Linked DNA regions of Homo sapiens: regions 2, 3, 4 and 5 are each reported to be linked to region 1. The links are microRNA targets in miRTarBase. Many come from high-throughput screens and were not tested one by one. Region 1 holds a microRNA gene; each other region holds the end of a gene's coding sequence.

Region 1 (5,104 bases):
TAAAGACTACAGCGAGAGCACCAGGGATGCCTCCTCTCGATATTGGATGTATTTGCTGCGGATCCTTCATCCCTGGCCAGGTGACCGTTCTCCCCACACAGACTGCAAATACAAACTCATTCAGGCTGTCCCCAAACAGGCTGAGGCTATGCAAGACAACAGAGAGATCCTGGAGAAGAAAAACATGGAGAAGAGCTGGAATTCAGAGGCTGGGTCTGACACCAAGAAACTCCCCGGGAGCAGTAAGGACAGGCTAACCTGCAGCCAGCAGCACCAAGAGGGACCCGGCCGCTGCGCGGGGCCTTGGCCCTGGGTTGGCTGAGGCCAGGCTGTCAGCCCTGGTTTCTCACAGACCTGCCTCACCTCTGGCTGCACCAGGAGGCCTGCAACAGAAGCCACAGTGTGGGGTCAGCAAGTAGGGCAAGAAGTGGCAGGAGGGTGCTGTGAGTCACAGAGCAGGCCAGGCAGAAGTCAGGTGTGGGGTCAAAACAACAGGAAGAGTGTGACTGGGTGTGACTAGGCAGCCAAGGTAGACGGTCGGAGACTCCCTGACTTAGCCTCTCTGTTCTGGCCAGCCTGAACTCACTTTGTGCACCTACTCGTTTAGCCAAGTAAGTGACTGAGAGTCTATCAGACAGCTGTGGATACACCCACAAACAGAGTCCCTGCCCTCATGGAGCTGACATTCTAGGGAGAGTCTAGCAATACAGCTAGTCAACAAAAACAAAACCATAATTATAGCCAAGCGGTGATAAGAGCATAGATGGGAACAGAAGCACAGGGAGTACAGAGTGAGGCAGGCACTATTGTGGGCAAGTGAACAAAGGAGTGGAGAGTGAGGGCAGGCGCCATCTTGGACAAGTGGAGGAGGGAGGAAATGAGAGACAGGGCAGGCACCATCTTGGCCGGGTGGACAAGGAAGGAAATGAGAGAGAGGGCAGACACCATCTTGGCCGAGTGGACAAGGAAGGAAATGAGAGAGAGGGCAGGCACCATCTTGGACAGGTGGACAAGGGAGGGAATGAGAGGGCAGGTACTGTCTTGGACAAGTGAACAAGGAAGAGGGTGGGGAGTGAGAGCAGGTGCCATTTTGGACGAGTAGAGAAGGAAGGCCTTGAGTGGAGACCTGAATGAGCTGAGGAAGGACGTGGACTCCCCCACCTCAGAAAACTCCTTTCTGTACTCTGGCCTAAGCTTTCCTTGTCTTTTAGATCTCAGCTTAGATGCCTCTTCTCCTTCCCTGGTCCCCACACCCAACAGGGCCCCTTCTAGGTACATGCTTATAGCTTTGTGTCATAATTGCTATTGCTATTTACTCTCTTAGGACACTGTGAGCCTTCTGAGGATCACGTGACCTGGTACAGGGCCCGGTGCACTGAGATACCCAGCCTGTGCAAAGGGAAGGCATGCATGAATGGAGGGACTCATTAATATGGACCCAGATGGGCAGGTGCTGGCTGGAGGGCATGGCTCCCCAGAGTCCAGGGCTTTGGTGGCAACCTGAATGGAGAATCCAACATCAGGGCCCCAAATCTCCAGCATCCTCTTTATTACATCACAACACTTCTAATCACATACTTGCTGCCTTCTCTACTTGAGATGACTCTGGATTCTGGACCCAGAGCTCAGGCTGTTACAATGACCGTACATCTCAAGTGAGAGAATGGGGACATGGCTGTCAGATGATCATGGTGGGTGCAATGGGAAGTCTGGAAAATGTCATTTGGATGCTGAAATACTGAAATTCCCAAGAGGTTTCAATGTATATAGAAGTGATAGAAGAATATTTGGAAACAAGACACCTTCAAAAAATTGAAAACATATGATAACCATAATCACGGGATGCAAAGCATCAATTTCAAGGATGTCTCTGGCCCATGGCCCATGCTTACCATGCATTGAGCAAAGTCATGGCCTGCAGGGCTCCTATGGTCTCCCCAGTAGGGACCACATTGATCTCAGGAACTGAAAAGTGCCCTCAAGGGAGAAAAAGAACTAGAGAGCACCTGGGCGAGGCTGCACAAGGCACCACTCCACCCAGACCCCAGTGTCGGTTCATTAAGCATGGAGGCCTGTTCCTCACCACCTGTCCCCAGATCCCCTAGACTCAGGGCTTCCCCCCATGGTGGAGGGCCGCCTGCCCACAGGGTCAACAGATGCTGCCTGCCCCAGCAGGGTCAACACAAATCTGAAAGCCACACCTTCTCCCCTGGACTCACCCAAATCAGAGGCCACATTTTGTTGTAGCTCCACTTCACAGAGCATGGCCCTAAGCTGTGGATTTTGCATCCTTTTCTCCCCACCCAACAAAATCTCAGCTCTGTTACCACCTCTCTGGGAAACCACAGGCTGAGGTCTGACTTGCTTATGATGTAGGCTGCCCTGATTCAGGAACTCAGAGTCTAAATTCAGAAACTTGTGTCTCTGGCCTCCTTTACCCCTGAAGAGGTATAGGGGAGGCAGGCAGGCAGGAGCCTTTCCCAGAGCTGAGCAATGAGGCCACCTCCAGCAACACACTTGGGGAATCACCAACGCCCTCCAACAGTGACTACCCTCTAGCCTGAGAAGGACGTCATCATTTAAGAGGTTTGGGTTTCTGTGGGCAGAGGGTTTAAATGCTGCTTTTTCCCGGCAGTTTCTGCCCCAGGTCAAAGCTTTCCCACCAAGCCACCAACCACCACTGGGAAATGCTCTTGCCCCACAATGTGTCAGCCCCGACTTAATCAGAAGTGGTGACTGAGAGGCAGCCTCAGCCTGGTCCGTGACTTCCCCAAGACTCTTCCTGTCAGTCCAGGGAGTTTTTTCCTCAGATGCCCCCCAGGAGGGTCCCTGCAGGGGGAACGGGGCTACTGGAGTCAGGGAGATGCCTCTCTCTGCACGTGGCAGTGGAGGAAAATGGGAGACAGGGATTCTTGATTGTGTGAAATTCAGAGACTCCTAGGCTCCAAAGCAAGAGCAGATGCTCCAGGTAGAGGGCAAAGGGCAAGAGAGCTGGTGATGAGCAATGGGACCCCAGGCTTTCGAGGTTGCAGCCACGTCCCCTAGTAACTGCCCTTCAATGACTGCGAGGCACCTTCACCTCCTCCTTGGCATCATACCACATTGAGCCCTGGAAAACCCTTCCTGAGCAAATGAGGATCAGCAACCCGGAAGAAAACCCTGCCCCATACCACTCCCGTGTGGGTATCTGATTTGCACCCCTCAGGTGAGGGCGTTAGGTGCAGAGACTATCACACTTTTCCTCTTGTTCTGGATCCCTAACCTGCAGACTGGGGTCTACCTGTCCATGCCTTCATGGTTTGCAAGTTAAGAGGATGGTACTGGCTACAAGGCTGGTCCCTACCAGCTCTGTGCAGGAATGGCACCGGCACATAGCATCACTTGGCTGGAAAACCCAAGCTGAAGGGAAACACCAAGAGCTATTCCTTACTAAAAACAAGGAGAGGCTGTTCTTGACAGCTTATTCCAATCCCCATCCCACAAGGCTTTGGCAGAGCTTTTTCTTGTAATGCCCACCCCTGCCCCCCATAGCAGAGACACCCAGATATCCACAGGGCTCATCTCTGTTCATCTTTTCCCTGCTTCCCCAGAACTGGGGACCACAAGCCCGAGATGGAGCAGGGACTTAGGGGCTGCTAGGCCCCCAAACATGGAAATAAAAGAAAATCTTGAGTATCTTCAAGGGAAATTCTAGGCTAGCCCCAAGAAGTAAATGAGCAACTTGGTAAGAAAGAAAGAAATAGTAGCTTAAAGCAATAGTCAAAGAAGTTAGAGTCAACCTCTGATGACTCTCTATAGAAACTAAAGAGAACATCTTAACATATGTCCCTGAGGTGTTTTTCAGAAACCCAGCTGGATGTTTTTCAGAAACCCAGAACCAAATGGATTTGCTGGCATATAGACCTCAAATGAGGGGAAACTGAGGCCTGAACTCTGATTGACGGACTTTTTTTTTTGAGACAAGGTCTGGCTCTGTCACCCAGGCTGGAGTGCAGTGGCATGATCTCGGCTCACTACAACCTCTGTCCCCCAGGCTCAAGCCATTCTCTCCCGCCTCAGCCTCCCAAGTAGCTGGGACTACAGGGTGCATGCTGCCATGCCCAGCTAATGATTGTGTTTATTCTTTATTCTCCAGTGCCACAGAATAAAGGAAAATTCCAGGCACCTAGCTAGCTCTGAGGACCTGGAAGAAGTCACATCCACAGGCCAGACCTTAATATTCCTTTCTGCTGAACCCAAGTTTTTAGACAAAGTTTCCCTTCCTTAACCAATTGCAAATCAGAAAGTCTTTGAAGCCATGTATGACCTGTAAGCCCTTGCTTCCAGATTTCCCACCTTTTTAGGCCAAACCAATGTATAACATCCATGTCTTGATTTAGAAATTTGCCTGTAACTTCTGCTCTCCTGAAATTTACCATTGCCTTTAAACAGCCTTGCTTGTAAGCCATCCAGGAGGTTGAGTCTTAAGTGTGAGCTACCAGATTTTCTTTGCTTGGTGCCTTGCAAATAAACACCATGCTTCCTCCCACTGCACAACTTCAGTATGGATGTTTGGCTTTACCATGCCAGGCAAGAAGATCCCACTTCGGTTTGGTTACAAGCCCCATCAACACCCTGTGACCAAGGTTCTTCCCTTTGATACAGAGAAGCAGAAAGAGAAAAGTGCTGTCACCTCAAAGCCCAGACCAGAGCATCCCTGCCTGGTTTCACTGTGTAACCCTAGGAGAGGAAAGTGGTTTGAGGGAACACAGGGCAGGAGACTGGCTCCTGGCTGGGTAGCCTCCTTGCTGTCTCCCAGATCAAGGGGCTCATTGTTTCACCCCACAACTTTTCTGGAGTGTCAATTCCAGCCTCGGCTTGGAGCTCTCTGCCTCACTGCAGCCCCAGACCACAGCACCTGCCTCCCCATTCCTCAACCTGTTGTACTGAGCCTGCCCTTCACCCAGGCCCCACCGGGACCAACCCCATGGTCCTCAGCCACCCTCCTTCTACAGGCCCCAAATCTCTCAAAGCTTGAGCTTGTTCCCCAGTAAAGAGGGTACAGCTGAGGCACAGATGAGGCCAGGTCATGGAGAAGATCAAGGCATGGGTCTGGACAAGGAAT
Region 2 (5,090 bases), not on the chromosome of region 1:
ATAACCCTATGATGTAGTTATTATTTTATAGATGAAGAAACTGAAGCATAGAGACATGAAGTAACTTGCTAATAAGTAGCAGCACCATACGCAGGCAAGTCGGACTTCATGAGAAATATATTTAACACAATGCCTGGAATCACAATAAGCACTCAGCAAATGCATATGATTGGGAGAGCAGGAAGAAATCTAAGATCCCTTGATTCAATTCTACTCTACAACAAGGTGCTAAAGGAACTCAGTGAATTCAGAAACAAAATGTAGTTCTAATCCAGGGCCTGGCAAAGAGTCTAGTTAGATTAGAATGATCAAGGATAAGTATAGTAGGTATATGTAAGTCTTTAGAAGACTTCAAAATGACTCAGAAAGTATTTTCACTTATTGTCTACCTGATGACATGTACTCTATTAGTACAGGTCTCCGATTGGGATAAAAGAACAATGGAGTTCTCATAGTAGCATTTCAATCCTGTGGCTAACCTGAGTGGCCCTGGAACCTATTTCCTCACTTCTAAAATAAGGACATGGTCTGAGTTCCCTTTCAGCTCTAATATCCTCAGAGCATATTATTATTATATTAATGTGAACATAGCTTCCCTCAAAAAAAAAAAAGGTTAACTTACAATAAATGAAGCTTTTATGCAGGTTTCCGTAGCGTAGTGGTTATCATGTGTGCCTTGCAGTAAGTGAAGTCTCAGCTACATGAGACTCAGCAGTCTCATGAGCTGCCACTACAGAAGTGTTAGTTTTAGAATTCATAATAATTCCTTTTATTGCCACAAAATAAATTAAAACTGTAGTCATATATTTTTGGATAATACAAATTTGAAGGGTTACTTCGATATATGGGGAAAGATTGTTTCTACTTAGGGGGTGAAAAAAAGAAAGAGTAATAAGGTTTGAATCACACATTGGCCCAGTAAAGCAGACTTCGGAAGATCTGGCAGCAGAACCATGAAGCAGAATTAATTTAATCATGAAAAACTTTACTGACTACTATGTGCCTCTGCTAGATATTAGGGATTAGACTGTTAAGACATTGTCCTTTTCATGTCCTTTAGTAATTGTGAAGTAGGCTATAAGTAAGACCTTAATAGCTAACATTTGGAACAGACCAAACATGGGCAGGAATCCCAGAAGGTAAAGCTCATTCTTTCTGATAGGACCACTTTTAAGTATTTCCAAACTTTAAGATCTAGAAAATTTGTAAGTATTTCTATGTCATGGGTTTCCTATTGTGCAAACCCAATCCAACCTACACATAATCCACCATTTTTCTACTAATCTCAGTGTATCTGTCTTAACATCAGAAAAGCAGACTTCTGCAATAATGACTAATCAAAACTTTTCTGCAGATCCACTGGGACATGGGTTTATCTGGCAGTCCTCAGATAAATCTTCAAAGAACAATATGTAACGGCATTCCACATCCTAGCAAATGACAATGGGAATAAAGATGAGAGTAGCATATGCTTCCGGCAAGTGTAAGCATCACCATCCTAGTAGGTTTAGAAGACTGATGATTATTTATTGTCTAGAATCTTCACAAAATCAAATCACAGTCATCACTCTAGTGGCATGTACATTAAACTATGTGCATCAAATTCCGGCCCTTGAAGAACAAGGAAGCCTACGGATCTGGACAGAGAAAAAGGAAAAGGAATTGCAATGGAAATTCATGTAAGAAAACAATTGCAGAAACAGCTCAATACCTTTGAAAAAGATCCCTATAGTAAGTAAGAAGGTAAGATCCAAGCCATGTAGTTATGCATGCCTCAGAGCACACCTGACTTTGGTCAAAGTCACTAAGAAATTTCCAAGGTAACAATGAAAGAAAGAAAAAAGAGAGAGAGAGACCATCCCTACAAAATCTGAAATGGTTGTTGTTTGTTTTTGAGACAGGGTCTCACTGTGTCACCCAGGCTGGAGTCCATGGCATAATCACAGCTCACAGCAGCCTTAACCTCCGGTGCTCAAGCTATCCTCCCGCTGCAGTCTCCCAAGTAGCTGGGACTACAGGTGTGCACCACCACAGCCAGCTAATTTTCGAAATTTTTTGTAGAGACGGGGTCTCCCTATGTTGCCTGGGCTGGTCTCAAACTCCTGGGCTCAAGCAATCCTCCTGTCTCAGCCTCCCAAACTGCTGGGATTATAGGCGTGAGCCACTGCACCCAGCCTGAAGTGTTTTTAAGAAATGAGAAGCCTCTAGGACTTCTATAATAATCTTTGAAATTGGCATTTATAAGCATTACCTTAAAGAAATTACCCTTTAAAGTTCATATGGATCAAGGGCTGTGATTGCTAACTAGGATCCAAAAAAGCTATGAATAATGTACATACAATACAAATAAAATTTGGTATGCAGTTTGGGAGTATTCCTAAAGCGCATTCATTGACCTCTTCTGTAGTGAGAGAAGCCAACTGCCAAAAAATCACCATCATTTTTGGTTGTTATCTGAAAATGACTGTGAGAGCTCAACTTGTGTTGCCAGGACCTCAAGCCAGTTGGGATCAGGGGCTCCCTGCTCATCTCAACTAGAGGAACTTCCTCTAAATCCAACTTCCCATGGGGCTAGTGGTTTCCTCCACAACATTCCACAGGCCCTATGGTCCCCTGGTGCTGGGCAGCTGGCTTTCTCAGCCAATTGTCACAAACAGCCAACAGCCAAGCCCAAACCACCTGTTGACCAAGCAGTATATCTGCACCCAACCAACAAAGTTATGCTCAAGCTTACCCTATAAGAAGAGCAAGAAGCAAGGGGAAAGTGTCCTATTACTAAATGAAAACTCACTGTGTCCAGAAGCAGGAGCTAATCCTGTCATGATGGTTCTGTGGGGGTGGGGGTGTTTGCTGAGCAGGGGGATCAAGGGACCCATGACCTCTCTTGATGACCTAGTAAGATTCTTCAATTAGACTCATTGCTTAATTCATACCACATGACTTTGTGGAATTCAGTGCAAATCCTGCTGATTATAGCTGGTGACCACAGAAAGACACAGAATTTGCTCTTACCTGTCTTCTAGGACAGGTGGTGATCAAGAAGGATCCATTTTACACAACCCCTTGCCAGAGATTTATGAAACCTCTGGTTTGCTGGTTATTATAAAACATAATGCAGCTGGGCATGGTGGCTCACACCTGTAATCAAAACACTTTGGGAGGCCAAGGAAGGTGGATCACCTGAAGTCAGGAGTTTGAGACCAGCCTGGCCAACATGGTAAAACCCCATCTCTGCTAAAAATACAAAAATTAGCTGGACATGGTGGTGAGCACCTGTAATCCCAGCTATTCGGGAGGCTGAGGCAGGAGAATTGCTTGGACCCAGGAGGCGGAGGTGGCAGTAAGCCAAGATTGTGCCACTGCACTCCAGCCTGGGCGACAAGAGCAAAACTCCATCTCAAAAAAAAAAAAAAAAAACCCACCACATAATGCAAGAACTCTCACCCTAAAGCTAGAGGCAGCAATATGCTCCCCCAAAAAACAAATTATAGTCTCTTACCCCACCTAATGAACTATGAAAGATAACTGAGTAGTCAAATAAATTAATCTTTTAGGTATAATTTCTCCATAGAATAGACTCAATAAAAGAATTGGGAGAAAAGTGCTTCAATTAAGCAAAGATCTAAATACTCTAAACAAGGCCAACCTCTTAACCTAAGCTGATTATTTCCATGCAAGAAAATTTAATTCTATAACAGCAGATATAAAATCAACTTGTAATAATAAAGACAAAAGTTTCAAAGAAAAACCATAAACACAAATGCAAACTGAATCCTGCTTTAATTCAAGCTTGTGGAGAACAAAGTCCTACAGAAACATTCCACAGAATTTTCTGGAAAAGAGGGATCACAACAACCCTGTAAAAAGGAGACTGAGAGTAATTCATAGCTCACCAAGTTCTCTCCGTATCAAATTTCCAGAATACCCACAAGATTTCTTCACCAGCTCAGTCCTGACTCAACCTCTTCAATCTTTATTTCATTAGAAGACAAAGGGTCATATTATTTAAAATTATTCTAGTCTCAAGAAATTTAAAGACTTGAAGTAGTAGAGCATTCAAAACTTAAATAACTTTAACAAGAAAGCCAGCTGATCTTAACAAGTTACTCTGCTAGTAAATGGGAAATAGACTGAATCATCCTAGACATAATTTCATTAGGGCTGCAAACCACCCAGGGGAGAGTAGCACAATTATACCATTTTGTAATCCACATTCACAAGAAGTTTGCTACACAAATGAAGAAAACTTTGTGCCCATAGACAACTTATTTTTTAAAATATCACTCCCCAAAAGTAGCCATGTTTCCACTTTTGTTCCCTTTTCCACATCAAAAATACCAACTTGATTTCTTCAGGAGGAATGGACAATCCAAGTTTATACAGTGGGCTGGAAAAAGAAAACACTGAAAAGTCTAAAAGCACAAAATAAACAAAGCTGGGAGGGAAGACAGTAAGAGTTATTTGTTTCTAATTCATTCTGAAACCCAAGGCTTGTATTTACCAGTCCTTTCTGCTAAAGTCATCCAGCTACTGAAGAGGAGAGCCTGGAAGTAAAGTCTGGAGGAAAGGTAGTTGACTGATAAACTGTCCTACAGGTGACAGTCAAGGAGAGAAGAGGTAGAGGTTTGGTGGTTAATGAATAAGTTCCTGACTAGCCAGCTCCTCTTCTTCTCTTGACTTAGATCAACCAATGTAGATGCGATGAAAATCATTGGCACCAAAAGCAGCATTACACTTGGGACATTTGCGCTGGCGGGTGTCATAGCGTGTCTTCACACACTCAAAGCAGAAGACATGAAAACACTTAGTAAGAACAGCATCCTTTTTACGCATGTTACAGCACGGACAGGTCAAGCGTGCCTAAAAAGAAAAGATGTCAGAGTTTGAACAACCATGAAAGTTTATGATCCAAATGGCTCTCATATACTACACAACCAAGAAGAAAACCCACAAGGCACTAAAAAAAGAGCATCATTTCCCCCCAACCTCCAAAATAAACCATTCTCTGGTTACTATCATGCAAATTATTCTCCCAGTCTATTAGGCCACTTAAAGCTTTGACAAAAAACTAATCACTAAGGCATTTTTTC
Region 3 (5,104 bases), not on the chromosome of region 1:
CCCAAAGTGCTGGGATTACAGGCATGAGCCACTGCGCCCAGCCTATATTATATATATTTTATAAAATATATATATAGTGGCTTGGTCTCACAACTCAACTCTAGCATAGCATCATATGATGCGTAACATTATCCTTTTTTAAATTAAATTAAATTTTAAAAAATTATTTTTAGTAGAAACACAGTTTTCCTATGTTGCCCAGGCTGGTCTTGAACTCCTGATTTCAAGTGATACTCCTACCTTGGCCTCCCAAAGTATTGGGATTACAGGTGTGAGCCACCACACCTGGCTACAAACTTCCTTAACTTAAACATTCCTTTCTGGTAACTCCAAGTTCTTAGACCACACTTTGTTCTTCTAAACAATTACAAATTAAATAATCTCTGGCCCCGCACGGTGGCTCACGCATGTAATCTTAGCACACGCCTGTAATCCCAGCACTTTGGGAGGCTGGGGCGGGTGGATCACTTGAGTTCGGGAGTTCAAGACAGGCCCGGCCAACATGGTGAAACGCCGTCTCAACTCAATTGCACCACTGCATTCCAGCCTGGGCAACAAAGCAAGACTCTGTCTCAAAAAAAGAAAAAAAAGACTCTCTGAACCCACCTATGACCTGTATTCCTCTGCTTCAAGATATCTTGCCTTTTGGGACCAAACCAATGTATAACCTCCATGTATTGATTGATGGCTTTTTGTGTAGCTTCTGCTTCCCTGAAATGCATAAAACAGAGTTACATTCTGACTGCCTCAGGACTACTTACTCAAGGTTTCCTGGGTTTGTGTTTTCTCCAGGCCACGGTCACTTCACATTGGCTCAGGTTAAACGTCTCTGAAATATTTTTCACAGTTTGTTTTTTTACATTAAGTGCTGGGATTACAGGCATGAGCCACCGCGCCCGGCCACAAAGGTTTTTTTAAAAATGTAGTTTTTTAAAAAACAAAGGTTTTTTTAAAAAACCTTTGTGGCCGGGCGCGGTGGCTCATGCCTGTAATCCCAGCACTTTGGGAGGCTGAGGCGGGCAGCTTACCTGACGTCAGGAGTTTGAGACCAGCCTGACCAACATGGAGAAACCCCATCTCTACTAAAAATACAAAATTAGCCAGGCATGGTGGCGCATGCCTGTAGTCCCAGCTACTCGGGAGGCTGAGGCAGGAGAATTACTTGAACCTGGGAGGCAAAGGTTGTGGTGAGCCAAGATCGCGCCATTGCACTCCAGCCTGGGCAACAAGAGTGAAACTTCGTCTCAAAAAATAATAAATAAATAAATAAACCTTTGCATGTTGTTATACTGCCCTGAAGCAGTGATTCTGAGAAGGGTCAGTCTCTAGGCAGTAGGCCAAACCAGTGAGATCATAATGTCTGGTAAGATCAGTGTCAGTCTGTTTTCTGTTACTATAACAGAATATCACAGATTGGGTAATTTATAAAGAAAAGAAGTTTATTTAGCTCATGGTTCCGAGGGCTGGGAACTGTGGAGGGGCCGTATCTGGCCTTCTTGCTGTGTCATAACATGATGGAAAGCATCACATGGCAAGATGGCAAGAGCATGCATGTCAGCTCAGGTCTCCCTTCCTCTTCTTATAAAGCCATCAGTCCCATCATATGGGCACCAACCCCCATGCCATGTATAACTTTTAACTCCCCAAAAATGTAACTACTAATAGTCTACTGTTGACCAGAGCCTTACTGAAACAGTCGATTAACACATATTTTTTATGTTATACATATTAGACACTATATTCTTATAATAAAGCTAGAGAAAATATTAAGAAAATCATAAGAGAAATTATATTTAGTAAATATAATTCACTATATTATATGGATCATCATAAAGGTCTGTATCCTTGTCATTTTGTTAAGCAGGCTGAGAAGGGGAGAGGAGGGAGACTGGTCTTGCCATCTCAGGGGTGACAGAGGCAGAAGAAAGTCCATAAGTGGACCCACACAGTTGAAACCCAAGTTGTTCAAGGACCTCCTGTAATCTCTAAGAAGGTTCAGACTTTCCCTAGTCTTCTCTTCTAAGCCTTGGCCAAAATCACCCTTAATGCTCCATTAGATAATACAGGCTTTGTCTGACCTGATCTTCCAGATTTTTCAAGCCTCTACCCATTACTCAGTTCCAAAGCCACTTCTACATTTTTATGTAAATGTCAGAGCAGCAAACCTACTTATGGCTATCAATATTCTGTCTTGTTACATTTTGTGTGGCTCTAACTGAATACCATAGACTGGGTAATTTATACAGAATAGAGGTTTATTTAGTTCACAGTTCTGAAGGCTAAGAAGTCCAATATAAAGGTGCAGGCATCTGGTAAGGGCTTACTTGCTGCATCATGACATGGCAGGAGGCATCAAAAGGCAAGACAGAGCAAGCATGTGTCCCAGTTCCAGTTGCTCTTCCTCTCCTCATAAAGCCACCAGTCCCATCATGGAGGCTCCACCCTGATGAACTTGGCTAATCCTGATCACCTCTTAAAGACCCCCCACCCAGTACTGTTACAATGGGGATTAAGTTTCAACAAGAATTTTGCTGGGGATATTCAAACAATAGCAATCTGCACACTGAAAACATTTCTTGGTGTCATCAAAACAGTTCTTTATAAAACTAATTTAAAAGTGCCACCAATAAAATTCAGATTTAATCATAGGGAAATCTGGAGTAGGTGTGAGGACATATCCAAGGGCCTGCATAGTAACTCATCAGGAATGGACTCACTTCTGAGAAACTACAGCAAGTCATGGTCAGGTTTCTCTTCTTTGCCTCTGGTGCTCACCAGTGTGATGCCAACAAGTTCCATCCATGTACAGCTTTAGAGATTACTATACTCAGGCATCTACCCTAAAGGGTACAAGTCCAAGTCACTTTTTGTACCTACATATATGAGTGGGTACTGAAATTCAACAGATATGAAAAGGAATAGAGGCTGGACATGGTGGCTCAAGCCTGTAATCCCAGCACTTTGGGAGGCTGAAGTGGGAGGATCATTTGAGTCCAGGAGTTTTGAGACCAGCCTGGGCAACATGGCAAAACTCTGTCTCTACAAAAAATACAAAAATTAGCTGGGTGTGGTGGTGTATGCCCCCAGGGCTCAAGCAATCCTCCCACCTCAGCCCTCTGAGAAACTGGGAGGCTGCACTACCTCCCAGCTTCTTGGGAAGCTGAGGTGGGAGGATTGCTTGAGCCTGGAAGGTCAACACACTGCAGTGATCCATGATCGCACTACTGCAATCCAGCCTGGATGACAGAACAAGAACCTGTCTCAAAAAAAAAAGGAAAATGAAAATAGAGAAGGAACCCAAATTGAAAAACCATATCCCCTTCCAATAAAGCTCAAAGACATAATTTTACATTATTGCTATCAATGCCAACTCATCACTTCATTTTCTTTTTGCATAAAAGGACCCTCATAATTTTTTATACTATCAAGGTAATAAAAAATTCCAAGTCTTACATTCTTTCAGTGAGCCTTGCCCCTGGTCCACCAAATGGCCCTCCTTAACTCCTGAAAGCAGGCCAGATGCAGTGGCTCATGCCTGTAATCCCAGCACTTGGGAGACTGAGGCAGGTGAATCACCTGAGGTCAGGATTTTGAGACCAGCCTGGCCAACATGGTGAAACCCTGTCTCTACTAAAAATACAAAATTAGCGGGGCGTGGTGGTGCATGCCTGTGGTCCCAGCTACTCGGGAGGCTGAGGCATGAGAATCACTTGAACCCTGGAGGCAGAGGTTGCAGTGAGCCAAGATCACACCACTGCAAACAGCCTGGGTGACAAGAGTGAAACTCCGGCACCACCCCCCACCCCCTAAAAAAAAAAAAGCTCTTGAAAGCAATCATTGGACACTTTATCTGATTATGTTCTCCCATAGGCTTTGCATTTCTCCTAGTCTCTAATTATAATGCCCCATCTCATCATAATCATAATGCCATATGCCCTAAACCCCAAAATGTTCTGCAAACTCTTCCAACTCCAGTAGCCCCAGAAGAGAGATGCAGACTGATAATACAGCCCAAATGTGGACACGATAAAGAATAAGTACTGCCATTTCCTACCGGGGGATAAAAGAAACTAATCAAACATGGTCCTTAAGCGTGAGAATTTAAAATGAAGTTAGGAAAACAGTAACAACTTATACAAGACAAGACCAGAGGAATATCAATAGACACAATCAGGAGACCAGTGGAATCCCTAACTTGAGGTGCAAAGGATTTTGAGAACGTGACGGGGCTTACAGGGAGTGAGACAAAGGATTCGGGCTCTGAAGGGATGACTTCCCAGGAAAAGCGAGATCCTGAAAAAAATGTGCTATTTGGACAGGTGAAGGGTTGGCCTTTTCAGATGAGGGAAGCAGCAGGAAGAAAGGCACAGAGGGAGGAAGTACCACTGCATGTGAAGAAGATAAGGGAGGCCCTGGTGGGGCTAGGGCAGAGCAGGTATGTTGGGGAGGCAGAGGAGAGAGGATGGCGCAGGGACAGTAGGGCTTAACTGCGGATAGCCCTGTTCCATTGATGAGTTTCTTCCTAGTATGCCACTTCTGATGCTGGATGAAACTTGCATTCCATCTGAAGGCTTTCCCGCACTCCTTACACTCATAAGGTTTCTCCCCAGTGTGAACTCGCTGATGCTGAACCAGAGTGATCTTTTGACTGAATGTCTTCCCACATTCCTGGCATTCATAGGGTTTCTCCCCATTGTGGATTCTCTGATGCACTATGAAGCGGGAGCTACAGCTGAAAGTTTTCCAACATTCATTACATTTGTAGAGTTGTTCCCCAGTGTGGAACCTCTGGTGCTGAAGAAATACCGAACTGCGGTGGAAGGCCTTGCCACACTCTTTACATTCATAAGGTTTCTCCCCAGTGTGGATTCTCTGATGCTGAATCAGAACTGAATTAGAACTCAAACTCTTCCCACACTCCTTACATTCATAGGGCTTCTCCCCATTGTGAATTCGTTCATGGATGATGCAGTCATAGCTACAACTGAAGGCTTTCCCACATTCCTTACATTTAAAGGGCTTCTCCCCAGTATGGATTCTCTGATGCCGAATCAGTTTTGAATTATAACTGAAGGTTTTACCACAGTCAGTACATTCATAGGGC
Region 4 (5,104 bases), not on the chromosome of region 1:
TCCTTTGTAGAAATTCACAGCTGTGAAGAGAAAGTTTCCCAGTGAGTTAATAAGTTGGCATTTGTCAGAATTCTCTCGGGTCAAAGACTGAGTTTTTTGTTCTTAGTGCTAATAGAACCAAATCACCTGCATTTGAGTATTTAACACGTTGGAAAGCCAACCCAACTTAAGGTCTTCTTTTTTGTAATGAGTAATTTGAAAGTGAAAGCTTCTTGAAGCATGCAGTCAAAATAAAACGCATGGGCGTTTATTTAGTAAAGCTAAATCGTGTAGCTTTACTCAGTCTGTTGAACTGGCAAATGTTAACTCCCCTTTATTGTTATACTTTCTTATTAATCATCCTATTCATAAAAATCCCATGACTGGGGAAAATGAACCCGTTAGGGAAACTCACTGCTATCAGTCTAATCCAAGCCACTATCAATAACTTTCTTACTGGTATCCCTGCTTCCACCTCGTCTAGCTATTATGTGTACCATGAAGATAACTGAAGCCAACCTGCCTGGGTTTAAATCCTAGCTCTGCAATAGCTGTATTGCCAGTTCCTTAAAAAAAAAAAAAAAAAAAGGTATAAGAGCTTTGAAATGCTAAATAAGCTCTTCATGCACATGGCAACTAGAGCAGCCCTTGTAAAATGTCAGATGTTAATGCTTTGGTTGACCTCCTCTAAATAACTTTACACTTAAAAAATAAAATCCGAACTCCTTACTAAGGCCTGTTAAGTATGCTTCTCATTTTATCCCCCATGTTCCAGTTACACTGTACTCGTCCCCAGAGATACTAAGCAGTTCTCTACTTCAAGACTTTTGCACTTGCAATTCCTTCTTCCTGGAACATCTTTTCCCAGATTTTTGCATTGCTCATTTCCTCAGGTGGCTGCTCAAATATTCAGTGTCCTTCTTCATCGAAAATAGCACACCCCCAGCACACATATCCTCAATTCATTTGTCTCCTGCCTCATTTTCTTTTTCTCTTTTTGCTATAAAGCACTCATTGCCACTGACTTTATATGGTTTAATGCCTTTCTCTCCAAACTGAAAACAGCTCCTGAGCACAAGGGTTTTGTTTTGGTCATTCCTGTAGTCTCAGCACCTAAACCACCACCTGGCACTGGTAGTTCTTTGTAAATACTTGCTGAATAGATGCTGTATTTAAAAAGCATTTTTCCCCACTAAGGACTTTTGAGAACCTTAACTTACTATGCTTTTCGGTTTGTTTTTCTTAGTATGCACCTAACATTTCCTACTCCCATACTTTCACTTGATCCACATCCTCTCATTAGGTCACCACTCACTTAAGAAAGATCAACTTTGGGCTTTTAGAAGGTTCTTGTTTGCAAAGGGTAAACAAGCACAACAAAAAATGATACTGTTTTCAAAGGGAAGTTTTAAATACTATTAGTAAATTAAATTCTAGATGAAACAGCCATATTTTTCAAACATTGTTTTTAATATACCTACCTATAAAGATCTATGGAGAATTCACATCAGATCATGAATGGATAGTACTTTATGATTAGAGCATACAGAGAGAGTTACAATTAAGCTTTTCTTTTTTCTTTTACAGGTTAATGACTCCAGAGAGTAAGATCAGATTCGTCCACAAAGAGATGGGCATAATACCAAGCTGGGGTGGCACCACCCGGCTAGTTGAAATAATCGGAAGTAGACAAGCTCTCAAAGTGTTGAGTGGGGCCCTTAAACTGGATTCAAAAAATGCTCTAAACATAGGAATGGTTGAAGAGGTCTTGCAGTCTTCAGATGAAACTAAATCTCTAGAAGAGGCACAAGAATGGCTAAAGCAATTCATCCAAGGGCCACCGGAAGTAATTAGAGCTTTGAAAAAATCTGTTTGTTCAGGCAGAGAGCTATATTTGGAGGAAGCATTACAGAACGAAAGAGATCTTTTAGGAACAGTTTGGGGTGGGCCTGCAAATTTAGAGGCTATTGCTAAGAAAGGAAAATTTAATAAATAATTGGTTTTTCGTGTGGATGTACTCCAAGTAAAGCTCCAGTGACTAATATGTATAAATGTTAAATGATATTAAATATGAACATCAGAATTACTTTGAAGGCTACTATTAATATGCAGACTTACTTTTAATCATTTGAATATCTGAACTCATTTACCTCATTTCTTGCCAATTACTCACTTGGGTATTTACTGCGTAATCTGGAACATTTAGCTAAAATATACACTTTTGGCTTAAAAATTATTGCTGTCAATTCCAATAATAATTCTTAGCTTATAACCAAAGAGCAGTGTTTAAAAGGAGAGCTTCTATACAAAACCTATTCCTGGCGTTACTTTTCATACAATTTTTGTTCTGTTTTACCTGGAAATAATTTACCAAAATAACTGAGTGTTGCTGCTAAAGAACAAAAGTGGGGAGGTATCAGGGAACAAGAAAACAAGAAAGGGTATGATCAATCATTTTCTTCTGCTCCAAACAGCTGGAGTAAAATTCATGGGAAATGGCCCTTCATTTAAAAAAAGATGTACCTCACTACCCACTACAAATTTGGAACTTTGTTCTTTTCAATAATTAGTTTTCTATTGTAAATTACCTACTAAACAGTGGTAGCCATGACATGGAAAGTCAACTGATTCTACAATTGGACATTCATTTGTGTGCCCTGGAATTTCCAACTAGTAATAAACAACTACTGTTGATGTAGTTTTAAACCACTTGAAGGGACTCATGAAGCATCCTGCAACATAAATTTGCATTTTTACATCAGATTTCTTTTTTTTCCTGAAAAACAACTAACCTTCTAACAACTATCTTTCAAAAGTAAATGTAATAAAAATGCACAACATAAAATGTTTATGATCCCAGCAATACACTTTTTAAAAAATGTGAAAGTCAAAGAATTAAGTTCTAGTTCTGACTCATCACAAGAGGTCAAAAGTATTTGCTACTGTAACATTCAATTCACATTTGAGAATCATGGTAAAAATAACTTGCATTTGCCTTACCATCATGATCCTACTGTTGAGTTAGGAAAATATGGTTAGACAGACTCACATTACTTTTTTTCAGAGGTAAACTCTAGATTACTGTGTCAACCCAATACTATTTGGCCATAGATGTAAAAACTACCAAATAAAAGTGGATTTTGTGGTCTACAACATTTTGTGTAAAGTGAATTCATGTCTGCTAACACCGTTAAGTCTGCCATTTAATCCAGAGTGTTAGACTACTAATGAATATGGTAAGGAAAATATAAAATATTAACGGTATATGCTATTTGAGGAATTTTAAGTCTCACAGGCTTTAGTTTTATTTCCATACATGTTTATTATATACACACTGCCTATAGATTCTGTTTAAATAATCTCTAAGAAAAAAATCAAACTTTTCTGAGCAGGTGATTAAGCTGAAAACAACCAATTAAAACCACCACTTTTTAAGTGACCTTTGGTCACAAATGTCAAAATGTTTCCACACCCTTTCCACCCTCAAACAAGAGACAAACTGTTTTTGATAAACTCTAGTATTTATTAAATTATAAATTTTGTAATCAAAAAGAAAAATGCAGACCAAAAAAACCTCAAACTATAAGACTAGACAGCAAAGCCTATGGGAACACCATGAAGTGTGTTACAAACATTCTGAAACATAAGTTACTGGCTGTTTTCATTTCCATTTCAATAACTTTACTATAAAATAGTTGTTATTCATCTATTTTGAAATCCCAAATTCACATCTATTCATACATTAAATTATGTTTCCTGTTCATAATATCAAACATCTCACAGGTGCCAAATTTTAGTAATGGTCTTATGCCAATCCATGCAGAAAAATAAGACACAATGCAGGAGTCAGATGAGGACCATTAATGCACAGATAATACAAACACACTGGCCAAAAGAACTACAGAAGTTTTTAAAAAGTATAAAGTAAACAGACCTCAAGAAAACTGGGTTATTACTAAACAGCTCTCAACTATTAACACCCAAGTTCCTTACATTAAATAAATTTCTCAACAGAGACATGTTAGACATTTTAATTATGAGTCTATCCTTCCCATACCCCTTCCCACCCCAACTCCCAAAATGCACTACTAGGGATGAGTATAATGTTATGTGGGCAGAAATTTACAGGTAACCCTTTCAACCTTGAGCATGGAGCTGAAGACATTTTTATTTAAACTTCAGTTACTGTGCACTGTCCATCAGGCCTTCTAGATCTGACACTGACACTCACTGTTCCACCCCCTGCTACTGATCGATCAGTTCCCGATCGATCTGATCGATCGGGTACTGTCTGGTTTGCATTAGAAACCAAAAGTCTCTGTTGGGTCAAGGAGTGCTGTGCAACAACTGCAGATACATCCTCACTATCACTACTGGCATCTGATTCAGTTTCTTCAATGGAGGTGTCTGGTGCTGGTACCCTGCCTGAAGATGGTGATTCATGATCTTCTTCTCCTTCTCCCCTATGACTCCTTTCAGCTGTGTTGTCTCCACTGAGTTGTAAATGAGCAAAAGAGTCTTCCAGAGAAGTGCTTGCATCAGGGGATGGTGTTGCAGGGCTTGTTAACTGACCATCTACTGATGTTAGGGGCCTTACAGAAGACACTAGGGGCTGAACAGAAGCTCCACTCTGTGCTGATACACTGTCCGCTCCGTCAGCAGAGCTCTCTCTTGCTAGGTTTACGGTATTAGCATCACAGTCTAGCCTAAGTCCAGCTACTCCCTTCTTTGGTATATCTATTATATCTCGCTTAATCTTCCTGCGACGTCCATGTTCATTTCTCCTATATTGAACCATGTTTTCAAGATCAGCGACATACAGAAAGCCAGCAATTAACATTTCAGTGTTCTTTTTACCTTTGGAAAAAGCATCTTCCAGCTCTCTACTAGTGCGCTCATCGTACTGCCACCACCCATTTCTTCCTTCATAATACCATGCATATTCACCATTTCCTCTACTTGCTGCCTTGAGTTCTTCTGGTGACAACAAGGTTGGCTTGTCAAGGAAATCCTCGGGAATTTCTTGTCGACAAAGAGCACACCGCTTTCCAAGCCATGAAGCTCCTTTTACACATAGATAGCAGAAAACGTGCTTACAGGGCAGACTGACTGGATGAACACATGT
Region 5 (5,104 bases), not on the chromosome of region 1:
TTCCAGTCCTACATGTATTCTTTTCTCTGTATCCTGCCTCTCTTGCTCTTGGCTTCCTGCCTTCTCTCCTACTCATTTTTAGAACAGTCTAGATGCAGGCAGCTAGAAGAGTTATTTCCTCCAAGCTGTCTAGGAAAAGGGACAATTAAAGAGAGATTCTGCACTTATTATGATATAAAAAAAGAAAAACAATGAGAGAACATAGTACTCTTTTACCTGTGACGTTAAATGGGAGTCACACAGGTTTAGCTATCTGTTCTAGGAGTGGATGAACAGACTATTCTCCCATGTCACTTCTTTCCTCCTGGACACCTTCAGGGAGACAGCTGGGTGAAGAATCATACTTCTGACCTCTGTCAAACAGGGTCAGATGCCGCAGAGGTTCTGAGATGATAAAGGAAGTGACAGAGGGAACCTGAGGTACCACATTTCTGATTTGTCATGAAAGTCTTACCTTGCTTAAGATGACTTTTTTAATGTTCCTTTCAGGGAAAATGCCAAGTGGAATAAAAACCAACATCAAGTCGGCTTCCATGCATCCCTACCAGCGGTGAGTGTGGCTGGCAACCTCGACTCCCTGGTGCTCTTTGCAGAGTTGGGCAGTGAAATTACCTTTTGCTCAAGGCTCACCTAGATGGGTACAATAAAAAGAACATGGGCTTTCAGCAGCAGACAAATCCCACTTCCACCACTGACTAGCTGTGTGACCTTGGACAAGTGACCTAATTTTTCTGAGCCTGTTTCTCATTTGTAAATGGTGATAATACCTACCTCATAGGGTTGTTGTGAGGATTAAAATGAGGAAATGAATGTAAAGCACTTAGTACAGTATATGAAATAATGGGTATTCAATAAATGATAGTTTCTACAGATCCTTCTCCCCACCACCCTCCACAGTCCTTGATCCAGAACTTACCCTAATCTGATACTGCCTCACGTCAATGGTGAGCTGATGGACACAAGATCAAATAAGGCTATGCTTATTTTGTGCTGCCAGAAACTGTAGCAACCTCTGTGTTCTTAGAGGCACACTGTTTTTGCAGGCCCTCCTGCCTGGGTTTCATTCTGGCTATCCCTCTAAGGCGCAAGGTGAAGAAGCTTCTGGGCCAGGAAGGAAAAAAAAATGCCCACCTGCAGCTCTGGTGAAGCTTGGGCCTGCTCTCCTTTCCATCCTCTAAGGAGCCAACTTGGCTTTTACCTGTCAAATAGTCATAAAGTCCCCTATCCTTTACCCCACCTTATACACACGAGGCTTTCTCAGGAAGTGGCTCTGCCAGGCAGGACTATGTGGGAAAGGGTTTTTCCTTAGCACACGAAAAAGCCCCTTCCCCTGGATTCATGTTTCTTATTTTGGAGGGAGAAGGGAATTGCACTTCACACTGCCATCAGGGTTTAGTTGACCTCATAATGGTGCCCACTTTCTCGACTTTGGCCAGGATTTCCTTCAAAGAAAACGACTTTCCTTCATTTCCCTAAGCCTGTGGCCCAAATGGTGGACCAGAATGATGGTGGGAGGGGGCAACCCCCAGTAGCTTTGCCTGCTTTTATAAAGTTGAACAAATTGAATTTAGACATTCAGGCTAACCTGCCTTTCTTAGTACTCCTTTGTTGGCATGGGCAGGGGTTGAGTCAGCAGAAGTGGACCAAAGGATTCCTCTGAATAAAGTTATTTAAATTGATGTTCACTGGCTCAGGGTTGTCTGACAGTAATTTATGAGAGCACTACATAGGGATCAGAGGGGCAGTTTCAAGAGTGCTGCAAGGCAGTTCTAATTTGTTCTCCATAAAAAAGTTTCCGTATCTTTAATTAGCTTTGATCTAAAAATCCTGAAACTTCCCTCCTGCTCATACCTTCCAGCTGCCTTTTTTCTGTTCTGTCACACACTGGTACTTTGGCATTTGTTCAGTGCCAAACAAAGTTCTGCCAGGCTGTGGCAGCAAAGGACTGGAAAAGTGGTCCCAGATGTCACATCTGTTACCATTCCATCAAGGTGAGGAATGGTATCCACAAAGCTCACTGACCACAATACATAGCAGTAGGGGAGTCTGGTCACCAGCTCTAAGGCAATGCCAGACCTTTCCCCCACTTAAACTGTTCCGGCTCATCAGCCCACTCAGGTGTTATCTTCTCACCTCTTCCCTTCCCACTGGAAATGTCAGTATTAACTGGCATATTGGGTAGAGTTTGAGCTGTGCTTCTCTGAAATTCCTGGAGCATCTTTTGGTGACTATTGTCCTTTACTCCACCAAAAGATTCCCTCCTATTGAATGGCACCAACCCCAAGTTTTTTTGTGTCCCAGGCAAATACTGACTTCATCCCCACCATACTATTAAAATGGATTCCTTGTCATCCAAGAATGGAAATATCCTCTTGCCCCAACAGGAACATATGCAGGATGTCACCTACATCTTGTTCCCCTAAGCAAACACTCCTTCCTCTAGAGGGACTCCTCTACATTCATCACCGTAGGAGCACATGCTGTCGTTTTTATCCCCCATCCTCAAATCATCTGGAGTACACAAATCTCAGTAGTGTCTCCCACTTTGGGGTCCATACAGCCTATTAAATGCCTCAATAGAGAGTATGTATCTCCCACCCCTAACATACTCATTCCCTCAGGAGGGAATACATATACAGTTTTCCTTTGAAGAAGGGGACATGACCTATTTACTGGCTCAGATTTAGGATTTGCAAAAGGTGACTATTGGCCTACTCTGGTAACATTCCTCTGTTTTTGACTGTCCTGTTTTGCTTGGAGATCGTGCTTTCTCCTATTCTTGGGTCCCCTGGAGAAAGAGATTAGGCCATTGTCTCCTAGGTTTGTGTCTAGGATGGAGAAAGAAGCAGCAGCTGTGAAACGTCAAGAGCTTACTACAGGACAGAGTTCATCCTGCTGAAGGCGGAAGCTTATCCAATCAATGTCAGCATAAGGCCCATTGCCTAGGATCTCTCCCTCTCCAGCTCTGCCCTGAGCCTGGGATTCAGTCATTGCTGAACCTCTCTTTTGCTCATTGTGCCAGTCACCCCATTCTGTTCCCCTTCTGGTGTTTATTGCTGCCCTACTTAGCTGGTGTACCTCATTCAACCCTGTCGTTTTTTGGGAAACAGCCAAGATAGATAGGTTGTAGCCAAGTGCTCCTTAGAACTCCATAATGGGTCCCAGCATTAGGATTGAGCTGGAGGGGGTGTAATTGCCCACCTCCTGTTGTGCTGCCACAGAGAAGAAGCTGAACTCTGCAGGAATGCCCCAGTGCAAGGCTGGTCCCTTTTCCCACCCCCCTCTCACCTCCCCCAGGCAGCTGGAAACAACCTCTCCCTTTGTCTGAGCTTCTTGTACAGAATAATCCTCCTTATGGACAATGTATTCTCTGTGCCCTGTGGACACAGGAGCTGTGTAAGCTGATCCCAGCACCAGGCAGGACGGAGGCTGAGTCCTTCCAAACGCCCACCCTGGGTCAGCTCCTGATTACTGTCCAGATGAACTACGAAGGAGTGTACATTCTCTTCCATCTGCCTTTCCTATCTGCTCCAGAATTAGGGGAATAGCCTACTGAAGTTTAGCATTGGGCCAGGAGTAGGAACAGGGGATGTGGTCCTTTTCTGTTCAGTCTTGAGGGTTCACAGTGCCTGCTTATGGAGGCTCGATGTGGCTCTTGCCTGGAAACCTCAAACACATGGGGACTAACCCTTGGAAAGGGCTTGCCACTGTGCAGATGGGGCTTTATGATTGGAACAGAAGGCAAACTCCAACGCATCTGATGGGACCATGGTGCCCCATCACTTCAGCATGTGTTTTGTCCCACAAGACAAAGTTCCTTTCTTCTTCCCTTTAACTTCTCTTTTTTTTTGAGCTCCATGTGTCACTGAGGCAGCTCTTGGGTTCCTGTTGTGGTCTCTCAATGAGTCACATGCCATTTGGACATGGCAGCTTCCCTAAGTACATCGTGGACAAGGCATCTCACTTCCCTAAGCCTCAGTTTTCTCACTTGGTGATCCCAGTGATCCTTTTTAGGTCTAAAGTCTGTGGCAATGATTTTCAAACCCATTTATCCCCAGGCATTTTGTTTTGTTTTGTTTTCCTTGGTGCATGACTGTTACATAAATAGGCCAAAATTTTCCTAGATAAGCCCCCAAGTCCCTCAGACTCCTATAAACTGTTCCTGAAGTTCCCTCGCTGTCACCTACACCTTAACATACCAACACCCTTGTAGACCACAACCTTGAAACTGTTTTCTAAAACATCTTTCTCTAAGTGAAGATTCATCAAAGAGATGGTAAGTTACCACAAAGTTATCACAAGTTACAAGTTCTGACATACCTTGTGTGTTAGAAGTCGCCCTCCCCCTCACACATCTCTCTCTCCTTGGGCAAGATACATGTACCAAAGAGACTCCTCCAGTATAGGCAATAAATTATACTTCTTCCACATGAAGATAACCTTTCCTACTGAATCAAATATAAGTGCCTTGGGATGCTCGTCTTCCTATGTTTTCTCTGCCATTCCACTGCTTTCCCTAATTCTCACCCTAATTTCCCTAGTTTGTGGTCATTTTGATTCTTCATCTTTTCTTGCCCACATTCCCTACGTAGATATCCTTTGTTCATTTTTTTTTTTTTTTTTGAGACAGGGTCTCACTCTGTCATCCAGGCTTGAGTGCAGTGGCACAATCACCTCTCACTGTGATCCTGCAACTCAGGTGGTCCTCTAGGCTCAAGTGATCCTCCCACCTCTCAGCCTCCCAAGTAGCTGGGACCACAGGCATGTGCCACCATGCCCAGCTAATTTTTAAATTATTATTATTTTTAATGGAGACAGGGTCTCTATGTTGCCCTGGCTGGTCTCAAACTCCTGAGCTCAAGCGATCCTCCCACCTCAGCCTCCCAAAGTGCTGGGATTACAGGTGTGAGCCACCACACCCAGTCTATCCTTCATTCTTTTTGCCAGTTTCTCTGGGCTACATTTCATGGCCTTAGATAGTGCCATTTTAGTGTCTCTTCCATGTTAAAAGATCCTTCTTAACCCTACATCCCCTCTCACTGACTCACTCGCGCCATGCTCTTGAAACAAAGTGCTTAGAATCACTGTTTCTTTTACCTCCCAT

What was found. The annotated mature microRNA hsa-miR-4287 reads UCUCCCUUGAGGGCACUUU and lies in region 1 at 1,970-1,988, opposite strand. An mRNA with a match to its seed (bases 2 to 7 or 8) in the 3' UTR can be bound and repressed. Matches are read on the target gene's strand: a 7mer-m8 pairs with bases 2 to 8, a 7mer-A1 pairs with bases 2 to 7 and ends in A, and an 8mer does both.
Region 2: the mRNA of RNF20 is a reported target of hsa-miR-4287. The part of its 3' UTR that is shown has no 7-base or 8-base seed match.
Region 3: miRTarBase lists ZNF619 as a target of hsa-miR-4287. Seed matches in the 3' UTR shown: 8mer at 1,565-1,572.
Region 4: the mRNA of RNF146 is a reported target of hsa-miR-4287. The part of its 3' UTR that is shown has no 7-base or 8-base seed match.
Region 5: the mRNA of MED8 is a reported target of hsa-miR-4287. Seed matches in the 3' UTR shown: 7mer-A1 at 1,355-1,361.

The regions. Positions count from the first base shown.
Region 1 is chr8:27,884,119-27,889,222 of GRCh38, forward strand. It overlaps MIR4287 (microRNA 4287), which reads right to left and starts at 1,998; the gene lies at 1,921-1,998. The region is part of intron 7 of SCARA5 (scavenger receptor class A member 5); the gene reads right to left.
Region 2 is chr9:101,562,016-101,567,105 of GRCh38, reverse strand. It overlaps RNF20 (ring finger protein 20), which reads right to left. Exons shown (of 20, transcript NM_019592.7): 20 at 3,762-4,860. The coding sequence ends at 4,684. Among named protein-coding and RNA genes, the nearest start is that of PPP3R2, 30 kb to the left of the region's middle.
Region 3 is chr3:40,487,368-40,492,471 of GRCh38, reverse strand. It overlaps ZNF619 (zinc finger protein 619), which reads right to left. Exons shown (of 5, transcript NM_001145093.4): 5 at 1,419-5,104. The coding sequence ends at 4,231. Among named protein-coding and RNA genes, the nearest start is that of ZNF619, 13 kb to the right of the region's middle.
Region 4 is chr6:127,286,740-127,291,843 of GRCh38, reverse strand. RNF146 (ring finger protein 146) reads right to left here. Exons shown (of 3, transcript NM_001242850.2): 3 at 3,282-5,104. The coding sequence ends at 4,151. It overlaps ECHDC1 (ethylmalonyl-CoA decarboxylase 1), which reads left to right. Exons shown (of 6, transcript NM_001002030.2): 6 at 1,567-3,132. The coding sequence ends at 1,975. Among named protein-coding and RNA genes, the nearest start is that of RNF146, 22 kb to the right of the region's middle. RefSeq lists a silencer at 988-1,047.
Region 5 is chr1:43,380,492-43,385,595 of GRCh38, reverse strand. It overlaps MED8 (mediator complex subunit 8), which reads left to right. Exons shown (of 7, transcript NM_201542.5): 7 at 490-1,679. The coding sequence ends at 554. MED8-AS1 (MED8 antisense RNA 1) reads right to left here and starts at 547. Exons shown (of 2, transcript XR_001738027.1): 1 at 455-547; 2 at 1-312.